Linked DNA regions of Homo sapiens. The protein of the gene in region 2 purifies or fractionates together with the protein of the main gene of each other region. This does not show direct contact. Each region holds a gene or a part of one and is shown on either strand. Other genes may lie near its edges.

Evidence for each region.
Region 1: the proteins of NMNAT3 (region 2) and SPTB purify together in Homo sapiens (affinity purification with mass spectrometry; 2 studies listed by BioGRID and IntAct, with this or other methods). This does not show direct contact.

What each region holds. Positions count from the first base shown.
Region 1 is NC_000014.9:64,789,882-64,800,388, forward strand, and holds part of SPTB (spectrin beta chain, erythrocytic), read right to left. Parts: intron 10,054-10,507; coding exon 9,866-10,053; intron 7,966-9,865; coding exon 7,848-7,965; intron 6,835-7,847; coding exon 6,676-6,834; intron 5,759-6,675; coding exon 5,456-5,758; intron 4,737-5,455; coding exon 4,586-4,736; intron 3,987-4,585; coding exon 3,116-3,986; intron 1,976-3,115; coding exon 1,838-1,975; intron 1-1,837.
Region 2 is NC_000003.12:139,574,723-139,585,229, reverse strand, and holds part of NMNAT3 (nicotinamide/nicotinic acid mononucleotide adenylyltransferase 3), read left to right. Parts: intron 1-1,910; exon of another isoform or gene 1,911-2,021; coding exon of another isoform or gene 2,022-2,303; intron 2,304-6,174; coding exon 6,175-6,358; intron 6,359-7,379; exon of another isoform or gene 7,380-7,438; intron 7,439-9,235; exon of another isoform or gene 9,236-9,647; intron 9,648-10,507. UniProt on the Homo sapiens protein: Catalyzes the formation of NAD(+) from nicotinamide mononucleotide (NMN) and ATP. Can also use the deamidated form; nicotinic acid mononucleotide (NaMN) as substrate with the same efficiency. Can use triazofurin monophosphate (TrMP) as substrate.

The DNA.
Region 1 (10,507 bases), on a different chromosome or scaffold from region 2:
GGGAGAATGCACCCTGAGGGAAAGAACCGCAGAGGCATGAGGCGACACTGGGGGTGGAGGTATAGAATGAGCATTGTTCTGAAAAATAATTGAAGAGCTATACACGGAAGAGGAACCAGGGTAAGTGTGATATCTCTCAAGGGCAGAGCCAGAATCAATATGTACGCATTTCAAGGAGGCAGATTTCCACTCAATGGAAGAGCAAACTTTTTAACCAAAAAGAATTGCCCAAAAATGAGATAGGCTGCCGGGTGAGGGAGTGAGTTCCCCATCACTGGCTAGACTGGGTGACTTCTCAGGTTCCTTTCAACTCTCAAATTTAATTTCATGCCTCGGGTTTTTTTCTCACTTAAGGATGGCAGGTACCTTGATATTTTTCTCTTGGGGATGGGGCCTGTTTTAGGGGTCTGTAAAGATCAACATTCTCAGACTATAGTTTATTGTTGAGCTGATGAGTTCTTCCTCTCAGGAAGTTTCTCTGGTTTAGACCTGCTCTAGTTTCCTCAATTATGCAGCAATTGCAATAATCTCTACCACCTCCTGCCCACCAACACACACAAACTCATTACCTACAAGGCGAAAGAAGAGGGAAGAGGTATTCTCTTCCTTTGTAAAACATCAGATTGACAAAGGAATCTCCTAAACCGCACTCTGCAGCTTGGGCTGCTAAGACAATCATCCCATTCTAGTGGCTCTAAAGAATTCTGGTCATCGCTGCCTCCCCTTAGCCCCCCAGTGAACTCTCCACTGTGCCGATCCCTTTCTTTACAATGGAGTCTTCCCTAGGCCCACCTCCCAGATTGCCTCAGGCAGAGCAACGCTCAGGCACAGGTGTGGGGAAGGGGCTGGGGTAATGGGGAGGTGGTGAACATGTGGCATTGCATGTGCAGGGCCCACGGTAAAGACAGGGAATGCAGGCATTTGCGGTGTCCTCAAAGATCCTCCAGGAACTCATGGGCAATTTCACCCCACACTGAAAGCACCCCCTCTCTAAAGGCTCCTTGGGGCCTATTTTTTGTTCTGGCCACAAAGCTTGCTTAAGGCTCCCTGCTAATTCTCCTCTTCCTTCAAGCCAGCCTCATTATCGATACTGCATTTGGCAGAGGCAGGAGCATTATTTTATGGACAGTACTTAAGAGCTCTCAGAAAGCAATTTTCTCTGCCCAAGAATGTCCAGGGAAATATAGCATGAGAAGCATATGGCCTGATTCTAAGTTTGGGCACACTTGGGATGTGCCCTCCATCACACATACACACCCACCCTCCCCAGGCACAGCATTCGAGCCTCCCAGGACTCGTCTCTCTCCCTCCCTGGGCTGTTCACCACCTCAATCATTCCTCCTTGCTGCTATAGTTCCAGTACTACTGGGAAGGGGACTGTGGCTGAGACAGACAGGAATGTCGGTGGGGGCGCGGTGGCTTATGCCTGTAATCCCAGCACTTTGGGAGGCCGAGGTGGGCAGATCGCTTGAGGCCAGGAATGAGACCAGCCTGGCCAACGTGGTGAAACCACATCTCTACTAAAAATACAAAAACTAGCCAGGCATTGTATCGCACGCCTGTAATCCCAGCTACTTGGGAGGCTGAGGAACAAGAATAGCTTGAACCCAGGAGGTGGAAGTTGCAGTGAGCCGAGATCGCACCACTGCACTCCAGCCTGGGTAAAAGAGTGAGGTTCTGTGTCAAAAAAAAAAAAAAAAAAAAAAAAAAGACAGGAATGTTGAGGGTATAGAAGTGTTGGTGCATACTAGGTGGACTAAATTTTGGGCCCGGCCCCCAGCAGTGTGTCAGATGTTGAGAGACAATGCCCCCGCCCCATGCCCTACCCACACCCCACCTGGTGTTCAGATGGTCCTGGTACTGCTTCACCTCCCTGCTGCGTGGGTGGCCACTCTCTACCAAGCTGTTGGCAGCGAGGTTCACACCATCAATCTGAGTCATCAAGGTCTTCATCTCCTGGTCCAGGATGTCGAACCTGATATGGGCAAAGGAAAATATGAGGATGGGTGAGGCGGCAGCAGACATTTCCTTGCCAGTGGCACCCCCAGTCTCCAGAACATGTAGCTCTTGCTTTCTCCTTCCACTGCCTAAACCATTTGCCCAGGTGAGGCAGGAGGAAGAAAACAGATATGCTGGCCCTCCTTTCTGGTTCATGGGTTTGATTTCATGAGTTAGCATTGCCTGGAACAGGCCGGGAGAGAGCCAGTTACTTCCTACACGGGCTTCTGGCTCAAGAGAGACATATGAAGGGGAGGGAGGGCTGAAGAGAGGTTACTGTGTATTTGTGTGGGGGATGTCAATTGTCACAAGGGCCACCTTCCAGGCCTCTGCTTTTCCGGCTGTTGCTTTTGGACTCTGAGTCCAATGCCTTGACATCTTAACCCAAAAGATACCCTTTCCAGCCAGGTGCTCCATTCCTGGGTAAGATAAGGAAAAGCTGCTGGGGCGGTGGTCGGGGGGAATTTGTGGTTCTGAAGGCCGATCCTTCTAGGGTAAGAGCCCAGGACTCTCCAGCATCAGTGCAGCACCACCTTGGCACTGTTCCAGAGAGCGGCCTCTCCTTCTCCTGACTGCCTGAATTCTGTGCTTCAGCTGCTGAGATGCTGCACAGACTGGGGCATGCCTCATCATCTGGGGTGCTGACAAAATCAGAACACCAGGGGTGAGAGTGGCCTTGCAGACAGGGGGTTTGCAAATTCTCTCTGTGGCCCCTCAGAGTCTCCTGGCTTAAGGACTGCCACAGAAAGCTAGAGCTGGCAGGGTCCTGGCCTCTCAACCTCCTTCTCCAGAGTAGCTCCATTTTTCCTCTGTGTGACCTGGGGGTTCCATACACAATTCATCTGAGCAAAGACTGCTATTGCTGAAAAGTAATTGAATAACTGGACTAGATAAATTCCCTTTGTTTGAGGAACACAAGGCCCCAAAGGGTGAAGTACCCCAGGCCACAGAGCCAGAATAGAACTTATGACTCCTAATGCCAGGACTTTGCAACAAAGGACATCCCAGGGCCTCTCAAAGAGACCTTTGCTGATCCAGAGACTATTACCAAACTAGGTGGGAGATGGTGCCCAGGCCTGGGTACAGGGACGTGAGGAAAAGATGAGTTAACTCTGACCTGTGCTGCACGACCTCCAGGTCCTCCAGGGTGTCTGGCATTTCCATCTCGGCCAGCCACTTCTCCTTCTCTCCCATCCACAGCTCACAGGCGTCTGTCTCCCCGAACACCGTGTACAGGTCCAGGGCTTCCTGCAGCCTCTGCTGACGCAGGTCCGCCTGGGCCACCACCTGTTGGTAGAGCTCCCGCAGGGCCTGCAGCCGATGGGTCACATCTGGGGAATCCCGAAACTCTTCGGGGAATCCCTGGGCCTGCTGCTCCAGGTGCTCCATCACCCCACGGCTCTCCTCCAGCTCCTCCAGGAAGTCCTTGTGCTTTTTCCCCAGGGCCCGCGTGGCCCCTTCGTCCTGCCCCACATCTTCACCAGAGAGCAGCCGGTGGGCGTCTTGCAGCCAAGCCTTCAGGTCATCCGCATCGCCCTGGAACTGGAAAAAGTTCTCAGCATCCTGGAGGTTCTTCTTGCAGAAGGCAGCCAGGTCCTTCAGCTGGTCCCACTGTGCCGACACCTCCTTTATGCGGGCCTCGATCTGCGGGTGCCCAAACTGCTTGCGCGCAACCATGCCATGAGCCTCCTGGAAGATCTGCTCCAGGTGAGCATCCAGCCCACGGAGCTCATCCTCAAAGGCCTTGTGCTTGCGCTGTAAGATGAGCACACTGGTCAGGTCTTTGCCATAGTCCAGGGAAGAATAGATCTGCTCCTTCTCCTTGATCCAGCTCTCAGCCTCATCCATCTCCCAGAAGAACTTCCAGAGTCGTTTGGACTGCTCCAGTTGGGCCTTCCGCCCAGCTGCCATGTTGCTCAGCTCCTCAAAGCACTGCTCCAAGTGGCTGATGCGGTCCTGGATGACCTGGGGGTCACAAGGCTGGTACCCTGGAAGAAATAGGGGGAAGGAGGACAAAGTGGGGGATGGGCTTCATTTATGGGCACGCTTCAGATAAGCTGCTAGGTTGGAACTACACAACCCTGAAGCTGCCATGTCACTGGGGCTTTGGGGTTGGATGCAGGGGGGTCCCAGTTGCTCAGAGGGTGGACAGATTCTTTATAATTATTTCCCACTGAACTTCAGGGTTAAGGAAGATAAAAAGTGGGGTTAGTTCTTAATAGAAATGTACAACATAAAATTATTTTTAAATTAATTAAAAAAATTTCAAGGTCATTCTTGAAAGATGCAGTGAGGTCTCTTATTTAAAACAAGAATCTGGAAACCTAAATTGTCTCAGCCATAACTTGAACTAGCAAGGAGAATGAAGGACAGAGGGTGCCTCCTTGGTGATTATAGGTTACCGAAGCAGTTGCCTGCTCTCTAGAGAATTTGGCTGGTCCCTCAAGCTTCTTTCTTGGACCATTACTTGATGAAAGTAACAGAACTTTAAAGTTGGTTCCAGGAGATTTATCCAAGTTGGGTTGTTAGGCCAGAGGTGAGGCTCTGGCATTGGAAGCCTCAAAAGGGGAGACAGACTTGGTCTCACCTTTCCCCTCGGTGAACTTCAGGGTGGCTGCGGTGATGGCCTTCACTTTGTCCCCTTGGATGGCGATGTCAGCTTCCATCAACTTGTGCTTCTGTAGCAGGTCTTCAACCTCCAACAAGTGCTTCCCAAACTCGGCAGACAAGAGGTGAGCCTGGCAAAGAGAACAGCAGAAAGGAAATGAGGAGAAGTGAAGAGACCTACACATTAGGAGAAGAGACCCCTGCAAAGGGCATGTCTCTAGTAATCTGAGCAAGGGTGAGCCAAATGCAGCCAGAAAAGGGCTGCTGCTGAGGATGGAAGAAGCTCCAGAGGGAGAGTGCCTACTGGGGGTGCCCATCAGCATCATCCATAGAACATCTTACAGATGCTCAAGCCCCACACTCATCTACTGCATCGGTCTCAGGGTTGGGGCCTGGCCATGTGTATTTTCACAAAGCTCCAGGGGCAGTCTGATGTGTGTCCTCAGCTGAGACCCACTGCGGCAGAGAGAGAGGAGAGGTTGCCCTCATGCTGGGAGGTCTGGATTCTAACCAGAGTCAAATTGTAATTACTAAGAGCTTGATTCTCCAGGTTCCTGATTAATGTCTGTCTCTTCAAGGCCCTGAAGGTTGGCACCGGTGCTGCCACAAACCCAAGATTTCTCGGTCACCAGGGTACCATGGACCTGGGCTGGTATCACCTGCTGGAGCAGAGTGGACCAAGAGGCAGAGAGGCAGGTGCAGCTAGACACTTTGCTGCCTCAGTTTCTCTATTTTGACTCAGAGATATGACTGGCTGGGAGGTGTCTAAGGAAGCCTATGCTAACTGCAGGGCCACTGAGACCCAAGGTGAGCACTGCAGGGCATGGCGGGGGCGGCCCCCAGGGCCCACCTTGATCTCATCCATCCAGTCGATGCTGTGCAGCATGTCCTGGAAGAGCTTCTGCAGTGCCAGGGTGGTCTCGAGCCTCTGGCGCCGGGACTGCAGCAGCTCCTGCAGGTAGCTCCATAGGCGCAGTATATTGTCCTTGCGGGCCGTGATGCGCTTCTGGTCATGGTAGTTCTCTTTCTCCAGCTCCTGAGCCAGGTCCTCCAGGGCTCTCACCCGCTCCTCGTAGGCAGCCGTGTCGGTCTCGATGGCCTCATGCTTCTTCTTGGCGGCCTCCACAGCTGCCAGGTCATACCCAAAGTTATCCTGCCCCACCGGGAGAAAAACAGGCAGCTCAGTCAGACACCCAGGGGCTCATCCCCAAACTCAGGGACAGGGCAGCTCCCTTCAGAACCAGTGCTAGATGGGAAAGCACATTCCCAAGAAGCAGCTAGTTCTGCCTTACTTTTGCAGCCTGTCTTATCAGACCCAAGTTCCAAAAATTAATGTCTCACAAGAGACTCTAAGAGAAGTTCATGATTTTACTCCCCGTGCCACCCGCGTGGGAGATGCAGCCTGCGTGTTACTAATGGAGCCCCTTGGCAGCCTGCTGGCACTCCCCACATGCCTCGAGTGGACCTGTTGGATTTGGGGCAGGAAGGGGCTGCTTCTCACTCGGAAACCCATGCACCAGCAAACAGATGGTTTATTCACATGCTATCTGGGGTGCGCATACACTCTCCAGTGCTCTCAGAATACTTGTTGCCCCCTTTCTGGACAGAATCTAATTTGATTCCAAGCTTTAAGTGAGAGGGAACAGATGCTCTGATGAAGAATCAGCCCTGGGGTCAATTCTTAGCTAGAATTATGTCACAGCACCAGAGACCAGAGTCCAAAAGGCATGCCTGACACAGACAAGGTGCAGTCTGTGATTTTACCATATCCCCCAAGAACCACAATTTAACATCAACTGAAACCCCAGCTGTAGTTGACACTACAGGCCCACATAAGACAACTTCAGCGGCCAGTTCTAGACTCCAAGGCTCTTTCCTAAAAATGAGATTTAATAAATCCTGGAGAGCTCCTCCCCAGATGCAAATCTTGATCCACTGGATCACGGGGGAGCTGTGCTGCAAGGCACGAGGAGAGGCTGTGAGAAGCCAGCTTGGACTCCAGCCCAGCCAAGAGCTGGGGGCTCTGAAGAATGTCCCCTCTCCTGTCACCCAAAGCATGTCCCTCATTACCTGGGCCACGAGGCGCTGGTTTTCACTGAGCCAGGTCTCTCTCATTGCGGCCTTCCGGTCAAAGCGCCGGGCCAGTTGCTCTAGCTTCTCCTGCCGAATGAGCTCATTTCTCAGGGCCAGCTCCCGCCGATACTCAGCTTCCTCCAGGCTTTCCCAGGCCTGCACAAAGGATGGAATGAGAATTCTTGGGGCACAGGAGAAATGCCTCACTTTGGGGGCTCCACCCCTTTCACCCAACACTGAGTGATTTCTGGAATCAAGGTACAGCCTGATGCTCTTGGGTGACGTGGTAGCAGATTAAAGATCAATAAAAGCCTTTGGCTTTCATGTCTGGGCCCATCAAAGATTCAGAGGGCACTGCTCATGAGTCTCACTTCCCTCTTCCCCTAAACCTGCCTCAGACTCTTGGCCCAAAATAATGTTTTTCACCTCTCTGGATGCTCAGTAAGTTCTTATTGACTAATGGCTACCTCCGTTCAATATGAACTGCCAGGTGGTGGTAAGCCTCCAAGCCTCTGAAATGTCATAGGCATTTCCCTTTGGTTATAAGTAGTTAATATTCCATCTTCAAAGACAAACTCAAGGTTCTACAGAGGATAGGCTACAAAACTGGCTCCAAAAAAATGGACTCGGAGGCTGGGTGTGATGGCTCACACGTGTAATCTCAGCACTTTGGGAGGCCAAGGTGGGAGGATTGTTTGAGCCCAGTACAAAACCAGCCTAGGCAACATTGCCAGACTCTGTCTCTATAAAAAATGTAACATTTAGCCAGGTGTGGTGGTGCATGCCTGTAGTCCCAGCTACTGAGACTGAGGTGGGAGGATCACTTGAGCCCAGGAGGACGAGGCTGCAGTGAGCTGTGATTGTGCCAATGCACTACCACCTGGGTGACAGAGTGAGACCCTGTCTCCAAAAAAAAAAAAAAAAAAAAAAAAAAAAAAAAAAAGGACTCAGGGATGCAGGGCATCTGAACAGGGGGATTGAAGGAGGGTGGGGGAGTAGAGTCTGACCCCTCAGAACCAGGTTCGATAACTCCCCCAAATAGTCAACATGTGGATTAATAACATCAAAGAAAGTGGCTTGGTTTAATCTGGTCCAATGACCATTCACTGTGTCCTTATCGGGAATTCAATCAATCTACTGTCAATGCATAACGGAAAATGCTGTGGTACCCTGTTGATGTCAGACACTAGTTTCCCATCGTGGGGTGTGTACACTTTCTGATTGTTGGCTCTCATCCGGGACTGGATGGTAAAAAGTAGAACTTCCAGATTCCCCTTCTCTTGAAACCTGTCAAGAAAACAGAAGTAGGAAGACTGATGTTAAGATCTCATGGCCAAATTTTTTTGCTAAAGTCAACACGGAACTGTGGCATCTTGAAGCGTAGATAGCAAAGCATATTTCCCTTAAAAACACAGAAAAACTAAAGAGAATCTGTAGGTCTGCTTACCTGTTAAAACATCTATCCTTTTCACCAACTGAGATCTATTAGGGGTTTGGGTCTTTACAATATAAACCAGAGAAAACACAATGGCCACCACAGCATTTATCATTTGCCTCTACATGGGAAGCTGAGGTATTCTGGTAATTCCTGTAAATATCAAGTTGTACGGATCAATACAAAAAAAATTTTAAAAAACCTTCTCTGTGCTGCAAGTGATGAGGGCTTCTTACTAGCTCTCTGGTCAGTTCCTTATTAAGTGAGTCAATAAAACCCCAGAAGCAGCATATTCCGTGGGAGAGCATCCTGCACTGAAAACAGCTTTCACCCAGGTCCTAATGAGCCAGATCTCCTGACAAGTCCTACAGGCCAGATGCTTCCCAGAAGGCAGGAAAGGCTGGGCTCTGAGAGGCTTGTAGGTGTAGGAGACAAGAATTGTCAGCAGGATCGGTGTCTAGCATATGGGGTACAGGCTCCAGGTATCAGGTACTTCCACATTTCTGCATGTACCTAAGTGTCCACCCATTTCTGCATCCTTGACCTGGCAGTCAAGGATCAGCTATATGCAAGGTCCCCACCCTGAGCCCAGCCTAATGGATCTCAGTGCTCACAGGCACTTAAGAGAACTGTGACCGTGAAGCACTGTCTACACAGCCAAGAGATAACACCTCTGTGTGCAGTGACTGGTAGACTCATAGAGGATGCTAACTGTATTGGATTTAGGGCTTCAGAAATGGGTTACTGTCAGACTAGAAACCAGATACTTGTTTATAGTATATCCTAGACTCAGCATTTCACCTTTCCCCATTTGAAAGTCATGAATGCAGAGTGTGGGAGATGGGGGGAAGAGCAGAGCAGAAGGTACCATCAATGAGCTAGAAGCCTATTTCAGAGGATCTGGACAAGCTAATGGCAGATAAGCTGGAATGCCCCGTGTGTATGTGTGTATGTGTGCATGTTTGTGTGTGCATGTGCACATGCATGGTTGTATATATGTATGTGCATTTGTACATGTGGTTGTATGTGCATATATATGTGCATGGGTGCATAGTTATGTGTGCACACATAAATGCATGTATAGTTAGGTGTATGTGTATGAGTGCACGGTTGTGTGTGTATGTTTGTGTGTGCATGCATGTTCATGGGTGCACAGTTGTGTGTATGCATGGTTATGTGTATGCAGGTATGCATGTGTGTGCACGGTTGTTTGCATGCACATGTGTGTAAGCATATGCACACAGGCTCTGCACACACTAGGGTGGGGCAGAGGTCCTGAGAAGCAGGCTAAGTGGTCTGTTGCTGAGCAGTGACAGATGGGAGAGAAAAAGAAGGATGAACTTGACAATCCATAAGGCCCCATGCAGAGAGCTCAGGGGCTGAGAGCACAGAGGTCATCAGAAAACAAGCCCACAGCTCAGTGGCAGACCAGAGAGGAGCTTTCCAGCCTGGGTTCTTCAAAGAGACTCAGAAGCCTATGATTTCCCTCCTGTTCCTCCTCAGGGATATCTGGGAGAAGCCACTGTCTTTGGTCGTGAGTCGAGGTTTCTCATCAATGCTGGTTTCTCTAAGCTGATGGCTTGGGAGAAGAGTGGTGAAGAGGGGCACAAGGCAGGTGACACACATACAGCTCTCTAATCTTGAGGGTGTGCCTTGTGGACACACTTCATAAGGCCCAGAACCTGGCTCTACCTTTTGGTGGTCAGTTTCCCAGCCACTGAGGACCACCCTCCCATGTGCCAGGGCCCTTACTTGGGCGGCTTCTCCACGGTGCGGTAGGTGCTGAAGGCCTGCAGCTGCTGCTGGACGCCCGTCAGCGAGTTGGCAAACTTGCGGCTGTTCAGGACAGTGATGGTCTGCTCGATCCAGGTGAGCAGGTCCGAGGCTAGCCCGCTGTACTTTTCAATCATCTTCTCAGTCTCAATGGCATGGTCAATAACCTAAGGAATCATCTTCTTACTTATTCTCATCAGAAGGGCAATGCCACCACTGAGGATATCAATGAGGACCACAATCAAGGTGCCACGAAATGGGGCTCCCACCTCCTAAGCCCTGGAGTGCTCTAGGCTGGGTTTGTTCCCTGAGCCCAAGTGTGCTGGTAGGGCAGAAGGAGTAGACTGGAATTGGGTGAGGCCCTCCTCTTGCCAATCGGCAGCGAGCTGGCCTGTTAAGGGTTGGGTGCAGTTCCCCTCCCCAGTGCTAGAGAAGATTGGTAAGCTTGCTGTGCCAGGATGCCAGCCACTAGGGGGCCAGGGTTTTGTTTATTTTTAAATGTTCATGAGGAGTCAAAGGCTGCCAGCCATTGTCTTTACTAAACATGAGGCACAGAGATGAATGAGAAATGGTACCTATACTCTAAGAGCTAAGGATCTAGCAGAGGGAAGGAATCTGGCA
Region 2 (10,507 bases):
AAAGGCAAAATAGACAAATTCGCAATTATAGGTAGAGATTTCAACACCCCACAATTGCCAATTACTACTGCTAGACAGAACTACTGGACAGAAAATCAGCAAGGATATAGAAATAAAGACACTCAACAACAGCATCAAATTGATGTGTAACAGAACTCTCCATCATCCAACAACAGCAGAATATATATTTTTTTCAAGCACCTATGGAATATTCACTAAGATAGGTCATATTCTGAGCTATAAAACAATCCTGAAAATGTATGAAACAAAAGTTGAAAGTACTAAAAAGAAAAACGGAAAATCCACAATCATAGTGAGAGATTTTAACATGCCTCTGTTTATAACTAATAAAAGAGGCAGACAAAAAAATCAGAACATAGATTTAAGCAAAACAATTAGTAATCTTGACTGAATGGACAGAACATTACATTTGACAACCATAGAATATGCATTCTTTTTAAGCACACGTAGGACATTTACCAAAACTCACCATATACTAGGACATCAAATATCAACACATTTCACAAGATTGAATCAATATAGAGTATATTCTCTGACTGCAGTGCAACTAAGCTAGAAATCAATAACAAAAGATAACCAAAAATCACAATATGTTTGGTAATTAAGAAAAATACTTCTAAATAAGTCATGGATCAAAACAGACATCATAATGGAAATTAGAAAATGCTTTGAACTGAATGATCATGAAAACACTACATATCAAAATTTGTGGGATTGTTTAGAGGGCAATTTTATAGCCTGAACTGTATATAGTAGGAAATAAGGATGTGAGGGTGATCTGGCTGAGACATCTGTCACCCCACTGATTGCCAGAGTTGATTCGGCTGATCTGGCTGCCTAGACGGGTTCCCCTTCCTCCCTCACCGCTCCATGTGCATCCCTCCCAAAGCTGCGTGCTCGGCTGAAGAGGATGACCATCCCCGATAGAGGAGGACCGGTCTTCAGTCAAGGGTATACAAGTAGCTGCACTCCTCTGCTAGAACCTCCAAACAAGTTCTCAAGGAAAGAAGGCAGACTGCAAATTAATTAGTTAGGCATACATCACAAGAAGTTAGAAAAAGAATAGCAAAATAACACCAATAGAGTAGAAGGATAGAATTATTTAAAATAAGACCAGAAATTAGTGAAACAGAAAGCAAAGCTTCAGTAGAGAAAACTAATATGCCAGAAGTTGGTTCTTTGAAAAGAACCAACTAATGAAATGACAAGCCTCTAGCAATATTGCCCAAGGAAAAAGAAAGAAGTCACAACCAACATTAGGAATGAAAATGGGCATCACTGCAGATGGTGCAGATAAAAGACATTAAACAGATAAAAGAATATCATACCGTCTGGTCCGTGCGCGATCACAGCCCGTCGCGTGGCTCGGGCTTGGGCAGAGCTGGAGACGCGTGGAGCTGTTCGAGGACTCGCAGTGCACATATGATATGTGTTTTAGAAATAGCTGTTAAACTTTTGTTTGAATGAAGAATGTCTCTCAATCCACCTATATTTCTCAAATGAAGTGAAGAAAATAATTCAAACTTTGTGGAAACAAAACAGTCACAAACTACTTCCATAGCTTCAGATGATATGTGTTTTAGAAATAGCTGTTAAACTTTTGTTTGAATGAAGAATGTCTCTCAATCCACCTATATTTCTCAAATGAAGTGAAGAAAATAATTCAAACTTTGTGGAAACAAAACAGTCACAAACTACTTCCATAGCTTCAGAAGATCCCCTTCAAAACTTATGTTTAGCATCTCAAGAAGTTCTTCAAAAAGCTCAGCAAAGTGGGAGATCAAAATGTCTCAAATGTGGTGGTTCCAGAATGTTCTACTGCTCTACATGTTACATTCCAGTTGAAAATGTACCTATTGAACAGATTCCACTTGTGAAACTTCCATTGAAGATTGACATCATTAAACATCCAAATGAAACAGATGGTAAAAGTACTGCTATACATGCAAAACTCTTAGCACCTGAATTTGCAAACATTTACACGTTTTCTTGTATTCCAGAATATGAAGAAAAGGACCATGAAGTTGCACTTGTTTTTCCTGGACCTCAGTCTATCTCAATAAAAGATATTTCTTTTCATCTGCAAAAAAGGATTCAAAATAATGTTAGCAGCAAAAATGATGACCCTGACAAGTCATCTTTTAAACGCAAAAGAACTGAAGAACAAGCGTTCTGTGATTTGAATGACAGCAAGTGCAAAGGCACAACACTGAAAAAAATTATATTTATAGATAGCACCTGGAACCAAACAAACAAAATATTCACTGATGAGCGACTTCAAGGTAAAAAATATATATATATTTTTTTGGACTGCTCCTCCCTCCAACTTATTTTGAAAAAACTTCAAACTTACAGATAATTTGAAAGAAGAGTTGCATTGAATACCTATATATTTTGCCACATTTACTTTATTTCTCTATTTCTCTTTATTATATATGTGAGCTTGTATTTATATATTATATATATTTTTTGTTGACCAATTGAAAGTAAGTTTCAGGCTTTGTAACACTTCACCCTTAAATATTAAGTGTACATTTTCTTTTCTTTTTTTTTTTTTTTTTTTTTTTTTGAGACAGTCCCACTCTGTTGCCCAGGCTGGAGTGCAATGGTGCAATCTTGACTCACTGCAACCTCCTCCTCCTGGGTTCAAGTGATCCACCCACCTCAGCCTCCCAAGTAGCTGGGATTACAGGTGCCCACCACCACACCTGCCTAAATTTTGTATTTTTAGCAGAGACAGGGATTTGCCACGTTGGCCAGGCTGCTCTCAAATTCCTGACCTCAGGTGATCCTCCTGCCTTGGCCTCCCAAAGTGCTGGGATTACAGGCATGAGCTATCATGTCCGGCCTAAGTGTACATTTTCTAAGAATAAGAATATTCTCTTATATTAATAAAGAATGACATCTCTTTTATAAACACCCCAATGGTGAACACATTTACTAAGAAGTTAGATCTTCTCTTTTGTTTTTTGCCTTACATGTGGTTTTTTTTTCTTTTTTTTTTTTTTTTTTTTTTTTGAGAGGGAGTCTTGCTCTGTTGCCTAGGCTCACAGTGGCGTAATCTCGGCTCACTGCAACCTCTGCCTCCTGGGCTCAGGCGATTCTCCTGCCTCAGCCTTGCTAGCAGCTGGGATTACAGGCACACACCATTATGCCCAGCTAATTTTTTTGTATTTTCATAGAGACAGGTTTCACCATGTTGGCCAAGCTGGTTTCAAACTCCTGACCTCAGGTGATCCCCCCACCCCGGCCTCCCAAAGTGCTGGGATTACAGGCATGAGCCACCGCACCCAGCCTGCCTTACAGTTTTTAAAAATAACTTTATTGAGGAAGAATTAACATATAATAAACTACGTATGTTTCAAGAGTATTAAAGTTGTCTCATATGTGTACAGCCGTGAGACCATCACTACAAGTTAGAAAATGAACATATCCAACCCCTGCCAAAGTTTCTGCCTGACTTTTATCATCTTTCTCATCCAGCTTTCCCCACAGCACACTTCCACGCTCTCCAACCCCATCTCTAATCAATGATCTATATCTACTTATTATAGATTAGGTACATTTTCTGGAATATTATATAAATTGAATCATATAGTATGTACTCTTTTCCTTTTTTTGGTTTGGCTTTCTCACACAAAATAAATAACTTGACACTCATTTTTGTTGTAGCATGTATCCATAGGTCATACATTTATTGCCAAGTAGTATTTCGTTGTATGGATATGCTACAATTAGTGTTATCTGTTTATCTGTTGATGGACATTTACACTACTTGTTTCCCATTTTCTACTATTTCAAATAAAGTTGCTATGACACTTGTGTAAAAAAAAAAAAAAGATGTTCTCCTGTATAATAAATACAGTACCATTATCACTCCTAAGAAAATTAATGAAAATTACATATCATCTAATATACTGTCCATATTCAAATTTCCCTAATTGACCCAAAAATACCTCTTGTAGCTTCCCCCCATATAGCATTTAAACTCATCACAATTTGGTTATTCTGTATCTTTAGTCTCTTTTAATCTAGAGTAGTCCTGTTTTTGTTTTTCATGACTTAGACTTTTGTGAAGAGGACAGGTCAATTGTCTGAATGTTTCATTGTGATTAGTTCCAGTCTAAATATGTTGGCTAGGATACTTACAGGTAAGGATAAATCCAGAGTTGTCTATGTCTAGTTTATATCTATTGTTTGGGTATAATTATTAATAACATGTAATTTCACTCTCAGAAATGAACCTTTTAGCTGATAAATTGTATGGTTAACCAATTCATAGGTGAATTCATACTTTATTGTTGTATCAAATTAGGATGCACACAATGCAAATTGTTCTATTATTTGTGATAACTTTCATTGCTTGATTAAAGCGGTGATTGCCAAAAAAAAAAGAATATCACAACTAACTTTATGCCAGTAAATTTCAAATTTTAGATATGATGAATAAAATCCTGGAAAATGTAAGTTGCCAAAATCATAATGAAGAAGTGAAATTCTGAATTATAATCATTAAGGAAATTAAATCAGTAGTCAAAAATTTGACTACTGAGTCTACTCCCACTCAGGATGAGGCACTGGAGATATTTAGCACCTGCCTGAATTCGGGCTGCCAGGTGGCGAGCGTCTGTCTGTATGTGCAACACCACTGCTCTCTCTTATGTAGGAATGTACCAGGTCATCCAGGGTATCATCTCTCCTGTCAGTGACAACACAAATTAAACTCTAGCCTCACAAAACTTCACTGGTGAGTTCTACAAAACACTCAGAAAAAAATGTTATTTCAGGCTGGGCACGGTGGCTCATGGCTGTAATCCCAGCACTTTGGGAGGCCGAGATGGGTGGATCACTTGAGGTCAGGGGTTGGAGACCAGCCTAGCCAACATGGCAAAACCCTGTCTCTACTAAAAATTTAAAAATTGGTCGGGCATGGTGGTGCATGCCTGTAGTCTCAGCTACTCGGGAGGCTGAGATTGCACCACTGCACTCCAGCCTGGGTGACAGAGCAAGACTCTGTCTCAAAAAGAAAGTTATTTCAGTCCTAACACACAAGATCTCTTACAGCATAGAAAGAGAGAACTCTCCAACGCTTTTTATGAGGCTAGCACAACCTTGATACCAAAATCTGATTAGGACAGTGAGAGAAAGGAAAATTATAGACCTGTCTTACTACCTAAAAAACAAATTAGCAAAGTGAACCCACCAGTACACAAGAAAGGTAATATATCTTGGCCAAATAGGGCTTATCTCAGGAATGCAGTGTTAGTTTAGGATTAGAAAATTAATCAATGCAATTTACCATATTAACTAAGTAAAGGAGAAAAAAAATCACACAATCAAGAGTTGCAGAAAAATCATTTAATAAAATTCAATGTTCATTTATGGCAGGCACTCTTAAACTAGGAATAACAGGGAATGTCTCAAAATAACATATTTGTCAAGATAGACTAGGCTAGCTGCAATAATAAATCCTCCAGTTTTAGAAGCTTAACACACAAAAATTTCTCTCTCCCCAGATGAATCCCATGTGGTTTAGACGATCTACAGGGCAGTTATCATGGTTAGTGAGCACAGTCCATGGCTATTTCAAAGTACGCTTTCCCACTCCATCAGCAGCACATTCCTCCCAGGTCAGTGGTGGCCTGTGCGACTAGTCCATCTACAGCCAATACCCACCAACCCTGGTTCACGCTAAAATCCCATCCCTTTGTCCTTCATCCTCAAAATCCCCATTTGGGCTAAGAAACTATATATAATTTTCATCCTCACATAGAGGGCAAAAATAGTGCCCCTGTTAATTCCTATAGAAGGGGAAGTCATGCTGTTCCTCAACTATATCCTGATCCTAACTGTCCTCACTGCTGTATGGGACCCTTGCCTGAGCGCCACCCTCACAGCCTTTGTCTCAGCAGAGAAGCCTTTCTCTCAGTGCTACCCGGGTTGTAGAAGGCTCTAGAGGAGAAGCACATGTTCACTAAGGTAGTGCCTTTACCCTTGCCTAAGGGAGCTACCCTTTCTCCCCCATGAGAGAATGCCAGAGTCTACTACCACTCAGGATGAGGCACTGGAGACATTTAGCACCTGCCTGAATTCAGGCTGCCAGGTGGTGAGCATCTGTCTGTATGTGCAACACCACTGCTCTCTCTTACCTAGGAATGTACCAGGTCATCCAGGGTATCATCTCTCCTGTCAACGACACCTATGGGAAGAAAGACCTCGCAGCTTCTCATCACCGAGTGGCCATGGCCCGGCTGGCCCTGCAGACATCCGACTGGATCCGGGTGGACCCTTGGGAGAGTGAGCAGGCACAGTGGATGGAGACAGTGAAGGTGCTGAGGTAATGGTAGTCACTCTCCTGTGTGATGACCAGGGGCCACGGGAGATGTCTGCAGAGCTTACAGGGTAAAAGGTAGGGCAGATTGTGGGGCTGGGTTTCTGCCAGACCTTCTCAGCAAATATCCAAGAAGCAGTTTCTACTTAGCAGGAGAGAGATCAACAGATTCACATTCTCAGAGAGGTCCCTGAGCAGAAAAATTACAAAACACTGTACTTTCAAATGCACTTTGTGGAAACACCCAACCTTATTTCAGATGACGGTAGCACTGGGGTCTAGTGCCACCACTTAGTAGCTGTGTGACTTTGAGCAAGTGATCTGAAGCCTCTGAGACATATTTCTCACTTGCAAAATGGAGACAACAAAACCGAATGAGGATTTTTTATATGTAAATAACTTTCCTGACCCAGAACTACATAATAATATTCAGTAGGTGGGACCTTTTGTTATTTTTATCATTGTCTAAGTTGAAAACTACATCTATAGAATAAGCTGTCTTTTTTAATTGTACAATTCCTGGGTTCTGTAAACCCAGACTTTTATGTGAAATAGAAAAAAAAGACTATAAATCTAGAAACAGTTACTCTGGATTATTTTTTCTTCTGGAATTTCTATTTGTATTCAGCATAAGTAATAAAACTGTTTAAAACCCCAAGCCAGCCCTGCATGTTAGGGCAGTGGGTCACTAGCTTGTGTCTGCAGACTTTAAGGGGGAATTGCCAGAGAAGCAGGAAGTCCCACCTCTCCTGGCTGTTGGGATTGTGAGTATGGCCTGCCTCATCACTAATGACAACCAGCTCTGCTGGAAGGGATTGCAAATTGCTGTGTCTTTTGTCTATTTAGAACCACTAGGATTGGCAGGAAATGGGAGGCAAAGGGACAAGGTGGAATGACTGACAGGCCTGTTCATAATGTGTTTTAGTTTTCATTTTTAACTTATCTTCAAAATCACTTGGGAGAAAAAGATTTACCTTTTTAGTAGAGGTAATCATTTAGTTTTTATATCCTGGTTCTTATTACTTACCTTTTACTGTGGAAAGAAGCAGCCAGAAGCATTCAGCAGTTACAGTGTTGCTTCAGAACCTGTTGCCAAATTAAAAGGAAAGCCATTATAAAATAATTGTTATGACACATGCTCTTCTTTATTTTTTAATGACCCATTAGTATAAACAAAGACCCTTATATTGAAAATTATATAAGGAATAAATTGACACCTAGATCATCCTTTTAGAATGAGTCATGCAGTCATTTCTCATTTATCTAGGCTAAGAGAGGGGGAATAGAAGCAAGAGAATAGATCATCCAACAAGTAATTTAGCTTTAATATGTAGGCAGAAACAGACGCTTGCTCCTCCACCCAGTGAGAAGCACTGTAGCCTAGGACACAGGTTTTAGAGCAAAATTTACTAGCTGAATTACTTGATATAAGTGATTTAGCCTCCCTGAGTCTCAATTTCTCACCTAATAAAATGGAAATGACATCACCCACTTCACTAGGATTCCGTGTGAATTAAATGAGATGATGTAGGCAAAACACCTGGTTTATGGTAGGTACTTAATAATGTTAGCTACCTTCCCTGAATCCCTAATGCTGGCCCATAATTTGTCCTCAAAACAGATAAGCCATTCATGGATAAATAGGAGTTGACCATAGTACTATTTACGATTACTTGTGCTTCTGCTGCAAAATACAGGAGTGAGCTAAGATTGTACTGAACGCATTCATTTTCTTTTTAATTTTTTTTTTTTGAGATAGGGTCTCAAAAAAAGCTCCATGGTGATTCCAATACATGGCTAGCCCACCACTTCAGCTGCCAAGTTTATTAATTAAGCTCTGTTGCCCAGGCTGGAGTGCAGTGGCATGATCTCGGCTCACTGCAACCTCCACCTCCTGGGTTCAAGCAATTCTCCTGCCTCAGCCTCCCAAGTAGCTGGGATTACAGGCACACACCACCATGCCCAGCTAATTTTTTGTATTTTTAGTAGAGACGGGGGTTCACCATGTTGGCCAGGCTGGTCTCCAACTCCGACCTCAGGCGATCCACCTACCTCAGCCTCCCAAAGTGCTGGGATTACAGGCATGAGTCACCACACCAGGCCTCTTTTTAATTTTTTTTAAATAACTCCTTTATTCTTGTGTTGCTCAGTGTTAGTTTGCACACGGGAATCACCCAGGGAGCTTTTAAAAGTACCCATGTCATTGGTCTGGGTTGGGGCATCAGGATTTTTAAAAGCTACCTGGTGATTCTAATATATGGCTAGCTCACAGCTTCAGCTGCCAAGTATATGAATTAAGCTTATGATCAGTACCAAGATGCATCCAAACCAGTGGTCTCAACTCTGGCTGCAGAAATCACTTAATAAGCTTTTTTAAATGCTCACCTCCTCCCACCCACCCCAGAGATTTTGATTTGTCAGGGGTGGGCTCTAAACATTGCTATTTTCATAAAGGTTCCCATATGTATTTTGTGCAACCAAAATTGAGAATCACTGTTACAGTCAACACAGTTTTATCAAATGCTGATTAAGATTTTTAAAATTATTATTTGGAGTAAGTTTCATCTCCAAAATGTACCAACTGCATTTGTGTTTGATTACTAACACTTTCCGAAAATTATCAAAATCAAAGTTTTTTAAGACTGAAAATCCAGTTATAATTGTAAAGTCAGGTGGTTTTAGAAGCATGGTAGAAATCCACCCCATCTTTTGCTCCATTTAGTGTCCTCTTGATAAAGTCCGTAGTGAATCTGCATCATAGTGACATAGTAACAAACATCTCTATGATGTAAATTCACTGTAGAGCTTACTGAGGATTCCTTCTTTCCCTATAAGATAGTTTGTTCTTTGCAGACATGATCTTGTGTTGTCCTCATTTTACAGATAAAGAAACTGAGGCTCAGAGAGGCTACGTTAATCACGGTCACACACAAATAGGACGTGGAGCTCCCATCTGTGGAGCTCTGAAGCCATGCTTATGGCCATCTTCAAAACAGGGATCTGCAGGCTGGGAACATGATGTGGCTGGCTTTACACCTCCCACAGTTGCCCTCCAATCTTTCCTGAAGACCAGTGGGACTGCTGAGGACACCAAGAACATGCCCCCAGGGTCAATCCACAGGCCCAAGGTACCACTCAGGCAGGCAGCAAGAAGCAGTTAATGGTCATGCCCCATAGAGGCGCAGTGGAAGTCCCTGGCAAATGCATGTTGTATTGGAAGTAATTATTTCCACAACAAAGTTCAGAGATCCAGCTAATATTCAAAGTAGGGTCAACCTGAACTAGGACCTTCAAGGTAAGTAAAATGAGAATCACCACCACCTTTTACTAATCACCCTCTATGTGTGCCAAGCTCTTTCATGTATATCTAGTAAGCTCAGCAACTCCAAGAGGTAGGTGGGTTTAGCCCTATTTTATATATAAGGACATGGAGATTCAGAAAGGGTTGTAAAATACTTCAAGTCCTACAGTTAGAAAGTGGAGGTGAGACTCAATCTACTTCAGTCTGATGTGAGAGCCCATGCCAATCCAAGGGTGAATCCTCAGAAATAAAGTTTACCAAAATCAAAGCAGTAAAACGATAATGAAAACACTGAGTCCAGCCAGGCTCTAAGAAGACTCTGCTGAGTCTCTGAGATGATCTAGAAGGGCTTTGAACCAGGTTAAATGTATTCATTCATCCACTCCTTCCAACATTCCTGAATTCAGCAGACTTAAGGAGCATTTTCATGGGTGCTAGGAATATAAAGATGAATTCCGTGGGGTCCCTTTTCACAATCTGGTGGGAAGATAGACTAAGAGTAATGATAATAACAGCTAACACTTATTGGGCTCTTTCTGTATATGGGCTGGTGCTAAGCGTTTCAATTAATCCTCACACCAGCTCTCTGGGGCAGGTTCTGCCGTTATCCCTCATTCTCTAGATGAGGAAACTAGAGACACCAAGACTCCAGAGCTACCAGTTAGAGCCAGAATTCCAACCCAGTCTAATTCTAGAACTTAACACTGAGCTGCCTCCCAATTATAATCAGCAGCAGGCCACTTCCCCAGCATTTGGCAAGGTGGAAGCAATTTTTCATTCATGATCTTTTGATACTCAGTGTAGATAAGCCCAGCATTAACTTTCATGACCAATTTACAGATGAGGTCCACGTG